Linked DNA regions of Homo sapiens: all the other regions are reported to be linked to region 1. Evidence: microRNA targets listed by miRTarBase, many of them from high-throughput screens and not tested one by one. Region 1 holds a microRNA gene; each other region holds the end of a gene's coding sequence.

Region 1 (4,292 bases):
GTGCAGTGGCACGATCTCGGCTCACTGCAACCTCTGCCTCCCGGGTTCAAGCTATTCTCCCACCTCAGCCTTCCAAGTAGCTGGAACTACAGGCGCGCACCACCACGCCCAGCTGATTTTTGTATTTTTAGTAGAGACAGGGTTTCACCATGTTGGCCAGGATGGTCTCTATCTCTTGACCTCGTGATCCGCCCGCCTTGACCTCCCAAAGTGCTGGGATTACAGGTGTGAGCCACAACCCCCGGCCTGTCTCCACCTTTTCTAATTCCCAATTCCCATCAATCTAGTCTTGTATCTAGAAGTGGTAAATTAAGTCAATATAAATGTGCCAAAGCTAAAGCAGAAGGTATTTGTTTTCTACACTCTTCTTGGCTTCCTCCTAGTCATCAACCTTGTCTCTCCTGATAGCTCCTTTTCCATCTCCCTAATCACCAAAAGCCCAGAAATTAAAACAGTAAACAATTCCCCTGAAAGGTGCCTTCCTTGTACTGTCTAAAACAAATGCAATCCTCTGTGTGGGCATTTAAAACACCACAAGCATTCTTACTTAGATTAAATCATGGGTCTCCCTGGTCTCCAGGCATGCCTAGACATGAACCATAAAGGGAATGAGATCCTTGGAGTTTCTCTAGTAACTGCAGGCCAAATCAACAGCAACCCTAAGAACAAGCATTCTTTTTTTTTTTTCAACAGAACTAGGCCACACATATTTTTTGTCGTTATTTAAATTTTTAGTTGTACTACATAGAAAATAAACTCATTTTAAAAAGTTATTTCAGTAGGCAATGCATCTTCATGACTTTTACATATGAGTTTTATTTTTTATTACTTTTGAAGAAAAGTCTGTAGAAACCTACTTTTCAAGGCATCTGACCCAACCATTGCCTTGGATGGCAGCAATCCAGCTCAGGTAAGATATTTAAGATGCAACTAATAATCATAAAACATCAGTTGGGAAGAAGTGTTCGATATAGTATTGGGTAAAAGTGACTAACAATTTGGTAGAAGAGAATCATTTTTATAACTATCTCCTAACCAAGATTTCTCTAAGTCTGCATATTGTTAATGGAATGAAGACTATTTTGCTCCTAGTTTCATGTATGTATATTTAGGTGAATGTGAGTCATTTATGTAATGTGTGCTAAAACACCGTGCCCCTCACAAAGATAAGATGAATACAAAATACAGTTATTGTAGATGGCTTGTCTTTCACAATTTAATTCTACGAGTTAATTTTTACAATTAACATTTTCTGTGCTACATATTTTGTATTTTGGTTTCTTTCCCTTCACTATGGGGTGTACAGAACAAAGTATGCATTTGGAAAAAAAGTGCTGTCTTTCATATGCAAAGAAAATGCTATAACTTATTCAAACATCCTTGGGCAGTTCTTTAGTTGTTTTAATAGTGTGAGTTTGTAGTTTGTATTGAATGATCCAGATGACCTGCCCCTGTTCATGTTACTTGTGGCATCTATGAGACCATTTGCTGGTTTTAGGGAATCAATCTATAGGTGGGAAGTTTTCTTTTGCAGAAACTAATTTAGAACTAAGCCTTTGGTGTCAGCAATGGGTGCTCTATACTGGATGCATGAAGACCATATTTCTAGGGGAGGCTGCTTCCAGCTGAATTTCACAAGGTGAGGATAAAGAGAACATTCCTTATCCTCTCCTGATTAATTCATTAAAGGCAAAGGAGGGGAAGGAAAGTTATTAGCAGAGATCTCCCAGAAGTCCTCTGTAACTGTCCCTTTTGCCCAACTGTCACAAGATACTGTTTTTCTGGCATCCACAGCCCTAACCCTGAATATCCAAATGTACTCGTGCATCAAGGATCTACTCAAGTCTCACCTCCTCTGGGAACCTTCTTTGACCTATTACAGCTCTCATTGAGGACCTCCCTTCTATTTCTGATACAAATAGTTTCTACTATTCTAAATAGTCCCTAGTTTAGTAATTTATTATATATATACTGTCTTGAATGGTATGGCCTTGATCTCAAGAGGACCACGATTTGATGTAACTAACAAGCTGCCTGGCTCACTATTTGACTAGAAGGCCCAGGCTTCACATCACTGCATGGCCCTCTAAGAGTATAAGGCCAAGTCCCCAACAGAGCACAGAGGTGCAGATGAGACTCTCCAAGCCATCCTCCCATATGTCAGAGGCTACCCAAGCCCACCTCCATTTGGAAAATTCAAACCTATAATTTGAGGTACCTGGGAAGCCGCTTTCCCAGGGCGGAATGGTCACGGAAACTGGGTAGGCTGGGGGCCTTCTTGGGGAATGAGGGAGTGGAGGAGCTCTTTGTCCCTCCTGCTAGATCAGAAAGAGAAACGTCTCAAGAATCTGGGCCTCCATCTTCTAGGCGTCTCCCTTGGAGGCCCTTCAGGGACCGCCCACAGCGCTTTCTCTCAGCCTCCTCCCCCCCCCCATCCCCTCCCCCACCCGCCCCGTCTCGCGCCCGCCCCGCCCCTCGGCCCGCGGGGTTCCAAGGACGGTTGGTCGCCCCCGCCACAGTCACTCGGCCGCTCAGAGCGGCGGGGCGCACGGGGTCGAGAGAGCCAGCTCTAGGGTTTGGGGCTGGGAACTGAAGCCTGGCGTGAAGGAAGTGGGAGCCCGGGCCGAGGAGGCGAAGGGGAAAGGAAAAGCGAGGGGAACCTGAGCGGGAGGGCCCTGAGAGGAGCGGGAGGCTGCGGGAAGGGGAGGCCTGGCACTCCTGGGGGTCATGGGGGTCGGGGCGCGGCTCCCGGCCTGGGAGGGCGCGGGTCCTCCCCGGCAGCGCCGCCCGCTGGCCCAGCTACGCGTGTTGTGCGCTGCGAGGCCGGCGGGGGTCCCGCTGGGCCCGGGGGTGTCCTCGGGGGCCGCTTGCGCCCAGCCATGGTAGGGCGTCCCCCGGTGAAATGGGGTCCGAGGCGGGCCCCGACCCCGCGTCGGCGCTGCGGACCGTCCGGGAGCTGCAGCCGCGGGTGCCCGGTGCTCGGTTTGTAGGCAGTGTCATTAGCTGATTGTACTGTGGTGGTTACAATCACTAACTCCACTGCCATCAAAACAAGGCACAGCATCACCGCCGCCCGGCCGGGAAGAAGACGCCGGCTCGGGCAGCCCGCAGCCTTCGAGAGAAGATGCCTGAGAAGCGCGGCGTCGGCGTGGGTCCTGCGCAGCCTGCCCCGCGAGCGCCCGCTGCAAGTGCGAGGAAACCCGCGGTTTCTCCAGATACAGTTAAACTGTTAGCTCTCTCTAGGAGTCACAGAAGATGAAACAGTCTCATGCCAGGAAAGCAAAATCCCTGGAGGTGAAGCCCCTCCATCCATGTAACGGTTAATACTGTATGCTGTGATTCACTGTGTCTATTTGCCATCGTCTAGTAGAGTATTCACCAAGCTAGCAACTCAGTTGAGCTCCAACTCAACCAATGAATTGCCTGCCTGTCACAACGTGTTGGGGTACCAACTTGAGACTGCAATTTTTTCTATGAGTCTAGTTACTAGGCAGTGTAGTTAGCTGATTGCTAATAGTACCAATCACTAACCACACGGCCAGGTAAAAAGATTTGGGAATTCGTCCAAATGAGCTGCCTGTGCATCATCAATGTGCGTGGGGAAGAGGGGTGTTGGAAAATGCTGATTTCATCCATTGCCTATTAATTGCTCAGCCAAAAGAAAAAAATCAACATTTCAGCTACTAAGTTTACAATGTATGTAATGTGTATGTATGTGGGGTTTTGTTTTGTTTTTTTTTCAATATTCCTTCAGGCTCTTAACCAAAATTTTAGATATAAGGGGGAATATGATTTTTTTCTTAGCTGACTGATGTATGTTATTATATGAACATGTGATTATTAACTTCTTGAGACTATATTGTTAGTAATATTTTGAAAGTAATATTGTTAGTAATATTTCGAAAGAATAAAGTGCCATAAAGACATAAATTGTGGTTATTGCTATGTGTCCATTTCCTTTGCTAAATTGACTTTATGATGTCCATCTCAGTTCCTGCCACAGTAATCTTAACTTTTCTATCAATGAAGTGGTTAAGTTGTTCCTGCCATGACAAAAATCTCCCGGGAAAGCTACTCATACACACAGACTTGTTAATACTTTTATAAGAAATACATTAACAAAATTTTTCATACTTCTTTTTTCCATGAAGAGACTCTGTTCACTCATTAAGATGTATCCCTTCTTTTAAGTAATCATTTACAACTGTTGGAGTCTATGCAACTTTTAGTGGGAGTGATTAGTAAATGCACTTACACTTTAAATCCAGCTTGTTTCCTAAGATTTAAAGGAT
Region 2 (4,145 bases), not on the chromosome of region 1:
CAAAAGTCCCTCATTCTCAGGATAGGTGAGCAGTGACTTGTTGCTTCTTTTTGTTTAAGGGGATTGAATAAAATCTCACGTAAATACCAAAGACTGCAGATCTGAGTATTCAAGTACAAACATCAAACCAAGGTGTATCAAAATGGGGGATTGCAAAGTGTCAACTGGTAAGGGAGTGGTCTTTCTCCCCTACCTGTCAGGAGGGAGCTGGGCCCTCTTGGTGGTACTGTGGGAATAAGAGAGTGTCTCTGAGTAATATTTATGTGTCTCATAAATCCACTGAAACTTGGAATTCCATGGATGCCAATCCTAGGTTGCCTGGGAGAGAGCTCTGCCTCTCAGAATATGTCAATTTATTCAGCCCAGTCTGCAAATGGGTGAGGGATGGGAGTGGGATGGCCAAGCTGACCACCTCCTGGTTCCCAGGAAGCCCCGGCTCCAGTAGGTGAGGAGAGATTCAGAGGACAGGAGGGTTCTTTCCTTCCAGGGAAACCCCAGCCAAGGGATTTTTCAGGGGGGAAGCCTGCTTTTGATGCACTTCTAGGGTGCATTCTGACAGTGTGTGTGCCCAGGTCCCAGCAGAAGATTTGGGACCATGTGAAACTTGCTGCTCCCTATGTCCCAAACACCTTGGCACACACAGTGCCTGGAGCCTGGGTGCAGCACACAGAGTTCGGGCCTGGGAGCTCACTGTCCACCCAGAGAAGGTACTTGGTGCAACCCCAACCCAGAGGCCTCGGGCACAGGCTGGCACCTTCTGGTGAGCTGCTCTAGCTTCATCAGACCAGTTCCACCTCCACCCAGTCCCCCAGGCCCTCGAGGTTCTGATCACAGGGCCATTATTGAACTGTTTCTCCTGCCTTTCCAGCAGGGACAGGTGCAGAGGACTTCAAGAAACACTGATTGCAAGGGTCTGGTGGGGGTGAAATTGGTGCTGCCACTCCAGAAAGCTGTTTAGCAAGAGGCATCAGTAACTTCAAAAATGTTCACTCCCTATGACCTGGCACTTCCATGCACGCAAATCCTTCTTTAAGAAATCTCCCGGCCAGGTGCAGTGGCTCATGCCTGTAATCCCAGCACTTTGGGAGGCTGAGGCAGGCGGATCACTTGAGGTCAGGAGTTCAAGACCTGGCCAACATGGTGAAATCCCGTCTCTACTAAAAATTCGAAAATTAGCGGAGCGTGGCGGCAGATGCCTGCAGTCCCAGCTACTTGGGAGGTTGAGGCAGGAGAATGGCTTGAGTCAGGGAGGTGGAGGTTGCAGTGAGCTGAGATTGCATCACTCAACTCCAACCTGGGCGACAGAGCAAGACTCTGTCTCCAAGAAAAAAAAAAAAGAAAAAGGAAAAGAAATCTCCCAATGCAGATAAACCCCCAGGCAAATTTCACCCACACTTATCTACAATAGCAAAAATGGAAGCAAATTAAATATCGAGTGATAGACTATTGGTTAAATAAATTGAGACACACTGATAGGATGGAATATGCAGCTGATGAACATTTTATTTATAAAAAGGTCTGTAAAACACAGAGAAGTGCTGGAATAAAGTGATGGAACGATAAGGTGGAAAAGGCAGGATACAAAGTTGTATATACAAGATAATTGCTCTGTAAAAAGAACACCGGCAAATTATGTGAAGAAGAAAAGAGTGGAAGGAAGTACAACAAAACGAAATAATGATAGTCTCTGGTGAGACTATGGGTGACATTTTTTTCTTCCTTTTCTTTTTCTCCTCCATCTTTCCAAGTTTTGCATACTGAACAACTCTTAATTTCACTTTTTAAAGGAAATAGGGCCAGACACAGTGGCTCATGCCTGTAATCCCGGCAATTTGGGAGACTGAAGCAGGAGGCTCATTTGAGGTCAGGAGTTCAAGACCAGCCTGGCCAACATGGTGAAACCCCATCTCTACTAAAAGTACAAAAATTAGCCAGGTGTGGTGGTGCGTGCCTGTAATCCCAGCTACTCGGGAGGCTGAGGCAGAAGAATCACTTGAACCCAGGAGGCGGAGTTTGCAGATCGTGCCACTGCACTCCAGCCTGGGCAGCAGCACGAGATTCTGTCTTAAAAAACAATAATAATGGAAAAAGAAAAAAAATAGTAGTTGTGCTACTTTACCCCCACCCCCGACCCCTTCTCCAGGGGGCTGGACTCGGAGTCACCTTCAGGTATCCGCCCTGTTCCTACTCTCCTCTGTGTTAGACACCTACGTGCACTCTGGTTTTCTACTTTTCTCTCTAGCCACCAGAACCCATAGGCAAGTAACCCTTTCCAGACAAGGAAGGAGCCAAGGTTTTCTTCATCATTTTTCCAAAGGCAAGAAGGCATGGCCAGGGAGGGCAAATGGAAAGGCAACCACTCTCTGCCGGTCCTGGGCTTATCCCTGCAATGTGCACCTGACCTGACCAAGGCCTGGACTTAGGCAGGCCTCAGGGGAGTCCCCAGCTGGATCTTGGTGTCGCAGACAGAGCAGATCTTATTGGGGCAGGTGGGAGACGTCACAGCCCAAATGCAGACTCTAAGCTGGAGGGGTCTGAGCGTTCATCAGGCCCACTGGCCCTCAAACTCAAGTGCGACAGTCACTGGGCATTGTTAGAAATTCAGAGTCCTGCACCAAGCCCCAGAGATGGTTTTGGTGGGTCTTGGTGGGGCCCAGGAATCACGTTTTTCACAGGCTTCCTGAAGGGCTGGGATGCAGGTGGTTCAAAGAGAAGCCAGAATCCCAGTCTCACCCCAGCATGCTCCTCTTCATCACCAGCTGATGCAGGAGACCGTGGGACTAAGTCTGAGGACGCCAGGGAGGGAAGACAAGGTGGGGTCTGGAGTGGGAGGAAGGCAGGGTCCGACACTGGGCATGAGGCCCAGGAGTTCCTGGCAGATTGAAACTCAGACCAGATCCACTGAGCCTTGTCTGGCCCTGCTGAGGGTCAGCAGCCTGGTACTCTGCCCAGGGATGTGAACCTATCAGGGATGTCCCAGTCTCCAGCCGGAAGAGCAAGGCCACCGCTCTGGGCTCCAGGGCTGACAAACGCTTCTAGGTCAGGCTGGAACATGCAAGAGGAGAGCCTGGGGAGGGTGGGGAGAGCCCTGGAGTCCGGGCAGCTGGACTCTGAGGCTGAGGTGGAAAGCTTTCGGGAATCGGTGCTGATCCAGCCAGCCATACTGCTTCACTGCTGGCCTGGCCAGGAGGGCCTCCTGCCCTACGCTGAGACAAACTTCGAGAAGCCCAGCTCCTCCTCAGATGTGTGGAGGGGAGGCATCGAGATCACGTCCCCCTCAGGGGCCTGGGAAGGGGCTTCCTTTTCCTCCGCAGTCTGTAAAGACAACAGTGGGGTTTGGAGAGCAGAACCCAGATGAAGGGGTGGGAGGTGTGAGGGGTGGTCCCCAGGTAGCTGCTGCGTCCACCCAGCCTTTTCCACAAGTTCCAGCCCTCCGTCCATCTGCAGAGGCACAGGACCTAACAACTCCCCAGAACTCCCAGGCTTTGATTCATGGCCTCTCATGACCCCAATCCATCCCTCCCCCGGGGTGCCCTCAAGGCCCCAGGCTGGGTTCTGGCGCAGTTGTGGCCTTGAGGGCAGTGCAGCCCACAGCACTGTCAGCTGTGACTCCCAACAAGCTATTCAGGAATTTTCTGGACCGGAAAAAAAGAGGATGTGAGGTCAAAAGCTCTGGCTTCCCAGGTGAAATGGGCTAGGCCTATGGCTGTGAATGGGGAAGGTGGGTAGATGCGGGGGTGTGGGGTTTGGGGAGCAGATGCTGAGGAAAAGGCCTCCTTCCACTTCCTCTAATTGTCAGAGTGGAGGCAGGCAAGGTGGCTCCTCAGCCCCTCCCTTCCCAGGGCCCTTCTGTCCATACTTGGCTTAGATACTGGATCTCTGTGTAGAGGCTGGGAGAGGGCTCGGGGATGGTGAGAGACCCCATGGGCCCTGCAAGGTTGATCACAGCGTCCTCTGGGTCCCGGCCATTCCCCAGTGGCTGTAACAGAGACTTGGTCAGAACAGCCTGTTCTTGGCAGCAGGGATGGTCTGCTAGCCCAGCCAAGCCCAAGCAAGATGAGGGAAACGTGGGAGGGGTGGGCAAGGCAGGGAGGTGCCGGGAGGGGAGAATACTAAGCTCCTGGATGCCTCTGCCACTTCCTTCC
Region 3 (4,145 bases), not on the chromosome of region 1:
TTTTTCCACTTGAGGCTGTCACATGATCATTTTCTCATATTAAGAATCAACCGTGAACTGCTTTTAAAACACTGCCTCCCACTGCATGCCGTGGATGTTCTTTAACATTTCTGCTGCTGGCTCTTTTCTGCCTTCCTCTTTGGTATTTTGATTTTGGCTTCTCTCAGAAACTCATTTTAATTTTTGTCTCCCTATAGCTGGAACAGCTTTGGGTCTTGGGGTTGTGAACATCCTCCATACCATGAATCCCTCCCTTGTGATCCTCTCCGGAGTCCTGGCCAGTCACTATATCCACATTGTCAAAGACGTCATTCGCCAGCAGGCCTTGTCCTCCGTGCAGGACGTGGATGTGGTGGTTTCGGATTTGGTTGACCCCGCCCTGCTGGGTGCTGCCAGCATGGTTCTGGACTACACAACACGCAGGATCTACTAGACCTCCAGGAACAGACATGGACCTTCTCTCCAGAGCTCCTGAGTGGAATCAAGTTCTTGTCTTTAGGATGACCGTTTCTTAACAATCAAATCTGGTATTGAACTGCAGGTGACTTTGGCAGAGAAATGTTTTCACTTTTGGTCTCCTCTTCCAGAGTCACCTTTCCCCACTCCTATTTTTGTAGATGCTATTCTTTCTGATGTCTTCTTACTAGGGGTCATTTTAGCTCAAACCCTGTAAGTTACAGTCACAATTTTCTGTGCCAAAGCAGCTACAATAATAGAGAGGAAGCCTTCTTAGAACTCTGCTTACTAATGTATTAATACCACTGAGACCTTCAGGCCTTGCCTGGGATATCACTTCATCCTGAAGTTTGCATTAATAATCCTTCCAGGCCGGGCACAGTGGCTCACGCCTGTAATCCCAGCACTTTGGGAGGCCGAGGCGGGCGGATCACGAGGTCAGGAGATCGAGACCGCCCTGGCTAACATGGTGAAACATGGTGAAACCCCGTCTCTACTAAAAATACAAAAAATTAGCTGGGTGTGGTGGCGGGTCCCAGCTACTCGGGAGGCTGAGGCAGGAGAATGGCATGAACCAGGGAGGCGGAGCTGGCAGTGAACTGAGACCGCACCACTGCACTCCAGCCTGGGTGACAGAGCAAGACTCCATCTCAAAAATAATAATAATAAATAATAATAATAATAATAATAATAATAATAATCCTTCCAGCTGGGCGCAGTGGCTCACGCCTGTAATCCCAACATTTTGGGAGGCCGAGATGGGCGGATCACCTGAGGTCAGGAGTTCAAGACCAGCCTGGCCAACATGGTGAAACCCCATCTCTACTAAAATACAAAAATTAGCCGGGCGTGGTGGCATGTGCCTGTAGTCCCAGCTACTCGGGAGGCTGAGGCAGGAGAATTGCTTGAACCCGGGAGGCGGAGGTTGCAGTGAGCCGAGATCATGCCACTGCACTCCACCCTGGGTGACAGAGCGAGACTCCGTCTACACACACACACACACACACACACACATCCTTCCTCCTCTAACCCCAAACTAAGATCACAGAAGGTGATCCAGTCAGAGAACAGAGGGAAATCTTACCAGGAAGGGCTTAAGTACACTTTTTTTTAAAACAGCTTTATTGTTTTTAAAGCCTACAATTTGATAAGCCTTGACATATGTATACCTGTGAAAGCATCACCACAATCAAGACACTGGACATATCTATCACTCCCCCATCTCAGATATCCCCCCTAATCCTGGATACCATTTGTTGAAAGATGTTATTACTCTAGCTGAACTTACAAGAGACTTTAGACCAGGGATCTAAATTACAGTGGCCTTAGTGACCTTGTCCTTATCTTCTTAGGACAGCTGAGAAGCCACTGGGACTTAGAGCCTTTAAAAGGAGATTAACTGTCCCAAAAGGATCTTTGCTACTGACCAGCAGACACTTCTTCCTTCAGTAGCCTTTCATACTGTGTTGAGTAACACCCTAGGGTGTCCATTAAAGTTTTGAGTTTTACCTAGAGCCCAGAGCCATGAATCAGGATTCTGTCTACATGATTCGTGTTTTCATTGGTGTCAAAATACAAAAGCCAAAGTTCTGGCTATGAATTGTTAACTTGGAAGAAATACTAACTGCCACCACTTATTAAGTGCCTACTGTGTGCCAGGCTCTGAACTAGGTGCTTCATATACATTATCCTAAATTATCTCAACATATGAGGTAGGTGTTTTAATTTTTATTTTATAGAACTTGGTGTGTTTGACTGTTAAGCTATGGGGCTAGAGAGAGGGTTTGATCCCAGGTCCCTCTGTGCTTTTGCTGCTGAGCCACACAACCTCTCATTTCAAAAACACTTTCAAAATGCTAACATATTCTAATTCACTCTAGGCCACCAAAAACTTTAATACTAATATCTGATTTGTAAATGACTTAATGTATCCTTGACCCTATCAGCTGAATTTAATGAAATATTCCTCTCTGCTGTGAAATTTTACCAGTATAGTATTTGGTCTAGTGACAGGTGTTCTATTTTTTTGAGACGGGTCTCACTCTGTCACCCAGGCTGGAGTGCAGTGGCTCAATGCAACCTCTGCCCCCCAAGTTCAAGTGATTCTCCTGCCTCAGCCTCTTGAGTAGCTGGGATTACAGGCACATGCACCACGCCCGGCTGATTTTTTTTTGTATTTTTAGTAGACAGGGTTTCACCATGTTGGCCAGGCTGGTCTTGAACTCCTGACCTCAGGTGATCCGCCCGCCTCTGCCTCCCAAAGTGCTGGGATTACAGGTGTAAGCCATCACACCTGGCCCTAGTGACAGGTTTTTATGGGTACTTTTAGATGATCTAAGAAATCATGTGCATATATCTTTCAGATTTCTATTTTGGGAAAATGAAGGTTTCTACAACATATTGTTTCAGTGTTCAAATAAACTGAAGGACTCAACATTACATTTGAACTATATCCTTCCTAGTGGGTTAGTGTGAAAAAGAGTTTGGCTGATTCCTAAAACTCTGCCAGCCCTGCAGTAATCTCCAGGGCCTGGTTATTGTTCAGACATTCCATGGTGATTCCTGGGAAGGAAGCTTGGCTGCTCAGTTTCTGAGTCTGGGGTGAGATAATGTTCTGGGAAGGGACATCTGTTCTTTGGTGTAATCTCTCATGGTGAAATCTGCTCTGTACATCAGACAATTGCATTGCTACCAAGTTTCATACCAAATATTTGAAAGGATGGTATTGAATCTAAAACCAAATATTAGTTTTTATTAAACTCATGGGAAGGCTAATATATTCCAACGTAAATTATTACATATGGTTAAGTAATTGCATGTTAATTTATTTTAATGTAAATATTTTTGTTACTGTTCTGAGCCAAATTCTAAAGAAAAAATAAATACATTTCCTTGTTGAAATCCTGTTGTATTTTGTTTTGTTCGTAACTCATTAGCCAAAAGCATTTTCCTTCCCAGAAGAGATTTAATTGTTGCACTGCTTACGTTTTGAAGGTTATATAACTTCCTTAAGGCCTCTAATATCATTGCTTTCTTAACCAAAAAAAGTCTATTAATAGAAAGCATGGCTGGGCATGGTGCCTCATGCCTGTAATCCCAGCACTTTGGGAGGCTGAGGCAGAAAGATTGCTTGAACCCTAGAGTTCGAGACCAGCCTGGGCAACATGCCAAAACCCCATCTCTACAAAACAATACAAAAAAAATTAGCCAGGCATGGTGCAGTCTCAGCTACTCAGGAGGCTGAGGTGGGAGGATCACCTGAGCCCGGGAAGTGGAGGCTGCAGTAAGTTAGTTATGATCATGCCATTGCACTCTAGCCTGGGCGACACAGTGAGACCCTGTCTCAAAAACAACAAAAACAAAACATTGCTATATATAACATTGAAAATTTGGCATAAAAAAGCAAAGTAGCCCCCAAGAAAGAGGTTTGAAACTAAGTGTTAAGCATTTACTGAGTCCCTAGACCCACTCCCTCTTTTTATGAGGCCCTATGTGGGTCTCATACAGGCATTAGAAACAATCCCAAATTACTATTGCTGTGTAACCTCAAAACTGAAGAGCTTAAAACAACAGTAATTGTTTCACGTCGTGGTTTCTGTGGGTCAGGATTTGGGAAAGGCTCAAACTTGACAGTTGTAGCTCAAGAGTATCCTGCACTTGTAGTTGTCAGCTGGAATAGCACGAGGCTG
Region 4 (4,145 bases), not on the chromosome of region 1:
GGCTGCCGTTACCACCTGCCTGATTCCCTAGTTCAAATTCTGAAGAGAGAATGGACGAACAGATGAATACACAAGTCTGACTGGCCTAGCTCAATGCTTTTCACTCCAGGACAATCCATAGGATTGGCTGTACTAGGAGCAGATGCCAGTCCTCCTTTGTACCAGACTCCCAAGACAAAGTACATGGCTGTATAGGAGAGAGAGGTCAGAGAAGACCTGGCGGAAAAGGCTGTGGGGTTGAGACCTAAGGATGGGCATGGGTTTGCCAGGACATGAAGGGTGCAGGGAGAATTCCAGGCACTTAAGAGAGCAGGCCCTTTGGGGGCAGGCAGGAAGCAGCATGGTATTGCTGGACTAAAACCTGTGGCAGGGGCAGGGGCTGCCCAGGGGAGGCAACCAAGTCTCTGAGGGTTTTGTCTGCCAGGCTGAGGGGCTGCCCTTCCTGTGTGGGCTGGAAAGCCAGGGAGAGGTGAAGACTGGCAGTGCTTTGGAGGCCGACTGGAGAGCTCTGAAGCTGGGCAATAGGAGACACTTGTCCCCACTTCCTTGGCTCTGAATTCCCTGAAGCCAAAGTCTGGATTGACTTCAAGGCTTGGCTGGAAAAAGCAGGAAAAGGGAGAAAGGAAGGAGAGAAGGTTCCAGAGGAGGAAAGGAAGCGTTGATGCACAGAAGACACAATTGGGCCAGGAATTTTTATTGTGAGAACGTTCTTTTGAAAAGGATCCTTTTTTCAAAGGCCTCTTGTGTTTGGCAGCCCTTAGAAAGCAAATTCTGAGAATTATTTTAGCCTGATTAAGCTCGCTGGTATCTCAAAATACTGAAATTATAAATACGTAATTACAAACAATGCCAAACTGCAAAATATGCATAAGAAAAGTCCCACAAAGTTGTGATTTTGCTACTTTTTCAATTCCAAATTCTTTCCCTAGGAAGTTTGATGCTGAGCCTGGCCTGTCTGTGGTGGGGAAGGAGGCCTGGGCCACAGCCACTGGACCTGTCTCTGGGATCTGGACCTGATGCCCAGCGAGTAGCCCGCAGGTTGCGTCCCCCACTGGAACACCCCTGGGAACCTGGGTGGGAGCGGCAGGTACAGGGGCCAGTGCAGAGTCAGGGCTTGGCCCATCAGGCCTGGGCCAGCACAGTGAGGCACATTCATTCATACACAGGAGTTGGATTTGCATTCTGAAAAGGTAGCACACATGACAGACCCGTGGGCAACCTGGCAGTGGCTGGGAAACCTGGCAGTGGCCATGCCACAGAGGGAGACCCAGGCTGCAGCTGCTGAAAGGGACTCACGCCCCTCCCAGCTGTGCCAACTGAGGCCCCTCAGGCTGCTGTGTACCAGTTAGTTAAGACACTGGAAGGCCAGGTGTGGTGGCTCACGCCTGTAACCCCCAGCATTTGGGAGGCCAAGGTGGGAGGATCACGAGGTCAAGAGATCGAGACCATCCTGCCAACATGGTGAAACCCCATCTCTACTAAAAATATAAAAATTAGCTGGGTGTGGTGGCACACGCCTGTAGTCCCAGCTACTCGAGAGGCTGAGGCAGGAGAATCACTTGAACCCAGGAGGCAGAGGTTGCAGTGAGCTGAGATCGTGCCACCGCACTCCAGCCTGGTTGACAGAGCAAGACTCTGTCTCAAAAAAAAAAACAAAAAAACTGAAGTAGGAAGATTTCTGTTCTATATCAATCAGGACTTTCTTTGTAAACGAGGTGCGTTCCTTTTGTTCTGTGGAGACCCAGGAGTAATATCACCAGAGTGAGGGTGATGAGGTTAGTAGGGATGCTCGCAGTCTGAGAAATGAACGGACTGCTTTGCATCAGTCCCTTCCCCTTCCCTGATTTTAAAAATTTAATTTTAAGGAGAAAATACTTCAGCATGAGACTTCAGTTCCTGAGGAAAATAACACTATTGCTCCATCCTTAGTATTCACTTAAACAAATGTTTAGCTAAAATTTTATTAAAAACTTTCAGCCCACCCGGACACGGAAGACTTTGCTTTTACAGCAGCTAAGGTATGTTTTCATTACCCCGTGAGTGATGCTAATGCATTGCAAATAGTTATTATGAGTTTATGTAGTGCTTGGTGCCTAAAATAAATTTCATTTAAATATTTAAAATAACTCCTGAATATAAGCAATTTATTCTGATTACTGATAAAATAACATTCACATTCAAGCCTACAAATCTGAGAAATCATTATTCCATATGCACAGAAGGCCACAGTCAGTAGTCTAATAGTACTGCTTACCAGTGTAGTGTAAACTTCTTTCAGAATCAGGGAACAATTCTAGATCAGCCATGGTGAGAAATAAGTGCTCTTCTCTTAGGCCAGCGACACTTCCGATGGGTCTTGACATCCCACCTATGGGCTGGTGTGTGAAACTCTCATCTCTACGTCCCTCCCCAGTTTTAAGAGTCACCATGTCACATAAAAGCTCCAGCATCAGCCAGGCACGGTGGCTCATGCCTATAATCCCAACACTTTGGGTGGCCAAGGCAGGTGGATCACGAGGTCAGGAGTTCAAGACCAGCCTGGCCAACATAGCGAAACCTTGTCTCTACTTAAATATACAAAAATTAGCCAGGCGTGGTGGTGCATGCCTGTAATCCCAGCTACTCGGGAGGCTGAGACAGAGAATTGCTTGAACCTGGGAGGTGGAGGTTGCAGTAAGCCAAGATCGTGCCACTGCACTCTAGCCTGGATGACAGAGAGATTCTGTCTCAAAAGAAAGAAAAAAAAAAGGCTGGGCGTGGTGGCTCACACCTGTAATCCCAGCACTTTGGGAGTCTGAGGCAGGCGGATCACGAGGTCAGAAGATCGAGACCATCCTGGCTAACACGGTGAAACCTCGTCTCTACTAAAAAATACAAAAAATTAGTTGGGCAAGGTGGTGGCGCCTGTAGTCCCAGCTACTCGGGAGGCTGAGGCAGGAGAATGGCGTGAACCCAGGAGGCGGAGCTTGCAGTGAGCCAAGATCGCACCACTGCACCCCAGCCTGGGAAGCGGAGCTTGCGGTGAGCCGAGATGGCGCCACTGCACCCCAGCCTGGGCGACAGAGTGAGACTCCATCTCAAAAAAGAAAAAAAAAAAAAATGCTGCAGCAGCCTACACAAGGCCCTGCTGATCTTCCGGGGTGTTATGTGGCCCATCTATCAGCACCCTGTTAGTATGCTTTTCGATAGGTCTAAGACTCACCCACTTTATTCAAGCCTACTGTGGCAGGTGCCTTTGTCAAACTTGAGCCTAACCATCCCACTGGCCAGGGTCCTGCTCATCACTGTCCTCCTCAGAGTCAGCAGACACCCTCTTGATTCTCTGGAGCGCAGCCTTGATGCTCCTCTCAAGGTCACTGGTGCGTCTGTTGCTGGTTGGTTTGCTGCTGGGGTTTGGGCCAAGATCAGGGTGAACTTTCTTCAGTTTGACCCCTTGCCTTATGGCAGCCAGAATGTGCTCATTGATTGAGGCGTGGGGAGGGCGCACCGCCGGCACTTCCACCTTCCGGAGAGGAGCTCTGCCATGCCTTAAGGAGGCCAACACTTCATCCATAGATCCTGAAATTGAATAAGCAGAGCTAGTACTATCAATAAAACACTTTCCCTTCCCAGGACATTACTGCTATGAAATTGTGAAATCTCCTATCAGTTAACACCATGATTTAAACAAATAATCACTTCATTAAGCAAATGCCTTGATTACGTGCTAACGATAAGCTCCCTGGTTGAATCCAGGACAGCTGAATAGCTCATGTTTTAGCTTAACCACTTCCTTTCTGCTAACTTCTTCAAATCCATAGCAACTGACAGGAACAGACATGCACTTTTGTTAGAATGACGGTTTTTCAAGACAAATGTGATCTGTCCCTCCCATCCTGAAGAGTGTTACGGAGGCCTGGGGTGGAATAGTCTCACCCACTGTGCGTGACCTGGATACCTCTGAAGCTGTATCTCCTTCATTACCCTGTCCAGCTAAAAGAAATCTTTTAAAAAAAATTTATCCTGCTCAATTTAACTTCAGTCTTGGGTATTAGTCAGTGATGACTCATTCTATGACAATGAAGTGAGTAGGTTTCTACACATGAAAAGGCTTAAAATAAAACTTTAACCGGCAACTCAATGAACCGCCACCGGAGGGGTGGTGC
Region 5 (4,145 bases), not on the chromosome of region 1:
AGAGGCGTGGCTGGTAGTCCTTCCCGGGAATTCTTCTTGCTTCCCGCTTTCTGTGGAACTCTGCCTTCCCCACTCTGCCTCTCTGCTTGTTCCTGGGCCCCAGGACCTCTTTCCCATCTTCGATCTCTTAAGTCATACCTTGGGAGGCCTCCCCCAGCCCGCCGTGTAAAGAGGGCTGTCACAGCTTCTGCTGTCACAGAAGCATTACAATGTGCAGGTGCCTGTTAACATCTGCCTTCCCCACTGATCTGGAGCTCCACAAGGGAGAGGGCACACCCAGTAGGTATGTGTGGGATGGATAGGAGGGTGGATGACACCCAGTAGATGTGTATGGGATGGATAGGAGGGTGGATGACACCCAGTAGGTGTGTATGGGATGGATGGGAGGGTGGGTGACCCCTAGTAGATGTGGGGGGGGTGGGTGGGTGACCCCCAGTAGGTGTGTGTGGCATGGATAGGTGACCCCCAGTAGACGTTTGTGGGACGGATGGGAGGGTAGGTAAGTGACCCCCAGGAGGCGTCTATAGGGCAGGTGGGTGGATGTGGATGAACAGCACCTTGTTTCTTCTTCCCAGGTGGCTTCTGGCACAGCAGCTTAATTGACCGGAACCTCATTGATTATTTTGTTCCCTTCCTCCCCCTGGAATACAAACACCTAAAAATGTGTATCCGAGTGGAAATGCAGTCCCGAGGCTATGAAATTGATGAAGACATTGTAAGCAGAGTGGCTGAGGAGATGACATTTTTCCCCAAAGAGGAGAGAGTTTTCTCAGATAAAGGCTGCAAAACGGTGTTCACCAAGTTAGATTATTACTACGATGATTGACAGTCATGATTGGCAGCCGGAGTCACTGCCTGGAGTTGGAAAAGAAACAACACTCAGTCCTTCCACACTTCCACCCCCAGCTCCTTTCCCTGGAAGAGGAATCCAGTGAATGTTCCTGTTTGATGTGACAGGAATTCTCCCTGGCATTGTTTCCACCCCCTGGTGCCTGCAGGCCACCCAGGGACCACGGGCGAGGACGTGAAGCCTCCCGAACACGCACAGAAGGAAGGAGCCAGCTCCCAGCCCACTCATCGCAGGGCTCATGATTTTTTACAAATTATGTTTTAATTCCAAGTGTTTCTGTTTCAAGGAAGGATGAATAAGTTTTATTGAAAATGTGGTAACTTTATTTAAAATGATTTTTAACATTATGAGAGACTGCTCAGATTCTAAGTTGTTGGCCTTGTGTGTGTGTTTTTTTTTAAGTTCTCATCATTATTACATAGACTGTGATGTATCTTTACTGGAAATGAGCCCAAGCACACATGCATGGCATTTGTTCCACAGGAGGGCATCCCTGGGGATGTGGCTGGAGCATGAGCCAGCTCTGTCCCAGGATGGTCCCAGCGGATGCTGCCAGGGGCAGTGAAGTGTTTAGGTGAAGGACAAGTAGGTAAGAGGACGCCTTCAGGCACCACAGATAAGCCTGAAACAGCCTCTCCAAGGGTTTTCACCTTAGCAACAATGGGAGCTGTGGGAGTGATTTTGGCCACACTGTCAACATTTGTTAGAACCAGTCTTTTGAAAGAAAAGTATTTCCAACTTGTCACTTGCCAGTCACTCCGTTTTGCAAAAGGTGGCCCTTCACTGTCCATTCCAAATAGCCCACACGTGCTCTCTGCTGGATTCTAAATTATGTGAATTTTGCCATATTAAATCTTCCTCATTTATACTATTATTTGTTACGTTCAATCAGAATCCCCGAAACCTCCTATAAAGCTTAGCTGCCCCTTCTGAGGATGCTGAGAACGGTGTCTTTCTTTATAAATGCAAATGGCTACCGTTTTACAATAAAATTTTGCATGTGCCATTGGTGAGTACGTTTTTGAAGAGGGAGAAGCGCCCCTCCACTGTAGACCTTATGAGGTAAGGCTGCGAGTGAAGACCTAGCAGAACAATCCAGGTTGGAAAGAAACGAAGTCTCACACAGGGATCTGAGGATCCTAGGATGGCTCTGTCCCCTCGCCCAGTGGTCTGGGAAGTCGCCCTCCATTGTGGGGTTCTTGGAGCTCCTGACACCCAGCCACGGAGTTCAAGTACAGCTGAGATGCCAGCAGGAACAGTGCCGTAGACTAAGGTAAGCACACCTTATTTTATCCAACATGCCTGTGTCCCAGCACGTGGGCAGTGCTCCCATGGGTGCGGCTGCTGCAGAGAGCACTGCAGGGGCCACTTCTAGTAGGCACAGAAGACGAGTTTGTGGCCTCGACTGCAGGTCTAACGCAGGAACCCTCTGCCTTATGGCTTCCCAGCCTGCATGGGGTCCCCCTAGGGCAGCCCAGGGCACCTAAAGATGGCTCCAAGCGTTAGAAAGTTCTTGGTATTGAGCTGCAGCCAGCCTGCTATGTCCCTGGGAGTCACAGATTAGGTCTAATCATTCCTTTGAAGAGTGTGGCCCAGGCACCAGAAGTCCCTAGTTAGAGAACACGGGTCCCCTGACAGTTTTGGAAGGTTCAGTCTTAGTAGATGAGGCAGTGTAGGTAGAATAGGAACTGCGTTAAGACTGAGAACCAGACCTAGAAAGTCAGTCTCCTGGGAATTGAGTAACTTCAGCTGAGAAAATAAGGGAGTGGGTGGGGTGATGGTGATGAGGGTTTGTGCTTTCTAGTAAATCTGCTAATCCTTAATCCTGTGAAGAGGGTGGGTGTTAGCAATTCACTGATGAGACAATACTGGATTATGTGTAATTAAGCTGAGATCAGATTAGCATAACTAGAATTTTTTTTGAGACGGAGTTTCACTCTTACTGTCCAGGCTGGAGTGCAATGGCACGATCGCGGCTCACTATAACCTCTGCCTCCCAGGTTCAAGCGATTCTCCTGCCTCAGCCTCCCTAGTAGCTGGGATTACAGGCATGTGCCACCACACCCAGCTAATTTTGTATTTTTAGTAGAGATGGGGTTTCTCCATGTTGGTCAGGCTGGTCTCAAACTCCCCACCTCAGGTGACCCACCCACCTCGGCCTCCCAAAGTGCTGGAATTACAGGTGTGAGCCACCGCACCCGGCCAGGATTTATTTACCAGTTTCAATGGTTAGGTTTCCTCACCTGAGCTCAGGTTCAGGCTGTCAGAGGTGAGTTTTACTTTACCAGTACCTCAATTTCCTCCCACGTTAATTTTGGGAGAAAGTCCATCTCTTTGATGAAATATCCATCAGCTAATTTAACTTCTATTTGTCTGGGGAAGAGCCTTTAAGGTAAATATTGCTTCTGTATCGCGCTGACTGCCCACCCGCCTGTCCCGGATATGGTGAGTCTCACAGCTGTGCTGCTGAAATTCATTCTGAACTTTGGAACCAAATAAACTAGAAAAAGTTAGCAAGTGGCATTTCACATGATAAAATCTAGAATTTACTATTTTATAGTCAGTAGGTCAATAAAGCTCTCGTCCACATCTTATAAGGGAGGTGGGGGAGGCGGGGTCATGATCAACCGTAGCCTTTTCAAGTTACAAATCAGTAACGGCAGTCCAAAGGTGGCAAACATATTTATTGCCTCACTGTAAATAGAGAAAATCTTGTCTTCTCTCGACCAGATGCCCAAAAGGTTATAAAAGAAGTATAACTTAGCTCCAATTTGAGGATATGTACTAAAAATTTTAAACGTCACCTTGGTGTTTTTTTCAAGACTAAGTGTGATACCACGTAAGGCATTTCCATGTCATAAATTAATTCTACCATATTTTTATGTAAAAAATGCTGCACGTTGTTGTGTCTGCAGCTGTGCTGTGATTATGAGACAGATACAATGATTCACACTGGCTGGAAGCTAAGTCTCACGTCCCAGGGATCAGGGCAGTCCAGCCCGGTGCTGCCACAAAGGGTGGTGGTATCAGGTCACACCTAGGACCTGCCACTTTAGACTGACCTTGTTTGATCCACGGTTGTGACCATGTATTACCACAAATTTAACAATAAAAAATTGTTTTAAGAGTATCTGAGAAAGGACTAAGCAGTCATTCCATTTTGTGTCCTTCCCTTGTTTTAAAATAAGCAACGTCCTATACTTCCATCATTTAAGATCATCAAGCTGACTTGTTCAGTCTGGGCCCATGTCATCCTTCCAGAACAAGCACATCCTAGGATTTCAAATGGTTCTAC

What was found. The annotated mature microRNA hsa-miR-34b-3p reads CAAUCACUAACUCCACUGCCAU and lies in region 1 at 3,025-3,046, shown strand. An mRNA with a match to its seed (bases 2 to 7 or 8) in the 3' UTR can be bound and repressed. Matches are read on the target gene's strand: a 7mer-m8 pairs with bases 2 to 8, a 7mer-A1 pairs with bases 2 to 7 and ends in A, and an 8mer does both.
Region 2: miRTarBase lists CD300LG as a target of hsa-miR-34b-3p. Seed matches in the 3' UTR shown: 7mer-m8 at 1,988-1,994.
Region 3: the mRNA of GNE is a reported target of hsa-miR-34b-3p. Seed matches in the 3' UTR shown: 7mer-m8 at 2,555-2,561.
Region 4: the mRNA of WHAMM is a reported target of hsa-miR-34b-3p. Seed matches in the 3' UTR shown: 7mer-m8 at 1,554-1,560.
Region 5: the mRNA of TOR1A is a reported target of hsa-miR-34b-3p. Seed matches in the 3' UTR shown: 7mer-m8 at 1,525-1,531.

The regions. Positions count from the first base shown.
Region 1 is chr11:111,509,963-111,514,254 of GRCh38, forward strand. It overlaps MIR34B (microRNA 34b), which reads left to right and starts at 2,976; the gene lies at 2,976-3,059. BTG4 (BTG anti-proliferation factor 4) reads right to left here and starts at 2,424. Exons shown (of 5, transcript NM_001367975.1): 1 at 2,219-2,424. MIR34BHG (MIR34B and MIR34C host gene) reads left to right here and starts at 640. Exons shown (of 2, transcript NR_147706.1): 1 at 640-910; 2 at 3,056-3,926. MIR34C (microRNA 34c) reads left to right here and starts at 3,477; the gene lies at 3,477-3,553. RefSeq lists an enhancer at 80-1,279.
Region 2 is chr17:43,860,968-43,865,112 of GRCh38, reverse strand. CD300LG (CD300 molecule like family member g) reads right to left here. Exons shown (of 7, transcript NM_145273.4): 7 at 1,474-3,315. The coding sequence ends at 3,202. Among named protein-coding and RNA genes, the nearest start is that of CD300LG, 16 kb to the right of the region's middle.
Region 3 is chr9:36,213,653-36,217,797 of GRCh38, reverse strand. It overlaps GNE (glucosamine (UDP-N-acetyl)-2-epimerase/N-acetylmannosamine kinase), which reads left to right. Exons shown (of 12, transcript NM_005476.7): 12 at 198-3,357. The coding sequence ends at 433. It overlaps LOC124902151 (a long non-coding RNA gene), which reads left to right and starts at 3,787. Exons shown (of 2, transcript XR_007061474.1): 1 at 3,787-4,145.
Region 4 is chr15:82,832,642-82,836,786 of GRCh38, reverse strand. It overlaps WHAMM (WASP homolog associated with actin, golgi membranes and microtubules), which reads right to left. Exons shown (of 10, transcript NM_001080435.3): 10 at 679-3,558. The coding sequence ends at 3,251. It also overlaps a transcript of HOMER2 not described here. Among named protein-coding and RNA genes, the nearest start is that of WHAMM, 25 kb to the right of the region's middle. RefSeq lists enhancers at 3,989-4,145, 3,302-4,145.
Region 5 is chr9:129,810,653-129,814,797 of GRCh38, reverse strand. TOR1A (torsin family 1 member A) reads left to right here. Exons shown (of 5, transcript NM_000113.3): 5 at 576-1,856. The coding sequence ends at 826. TOR1B (torsin family 1 member B) reads right to left here. Exons shown (of 5, transcript NM_014506.3): 5 at 3,517-4,145. Among named protein-coding and RNA genes, the nearest start is that of TOR1B, 9.5 kb to the right of the region's middle. RefSeq lists an enhancer at 2,159-2,208 and a silencer at 2,334-2,628.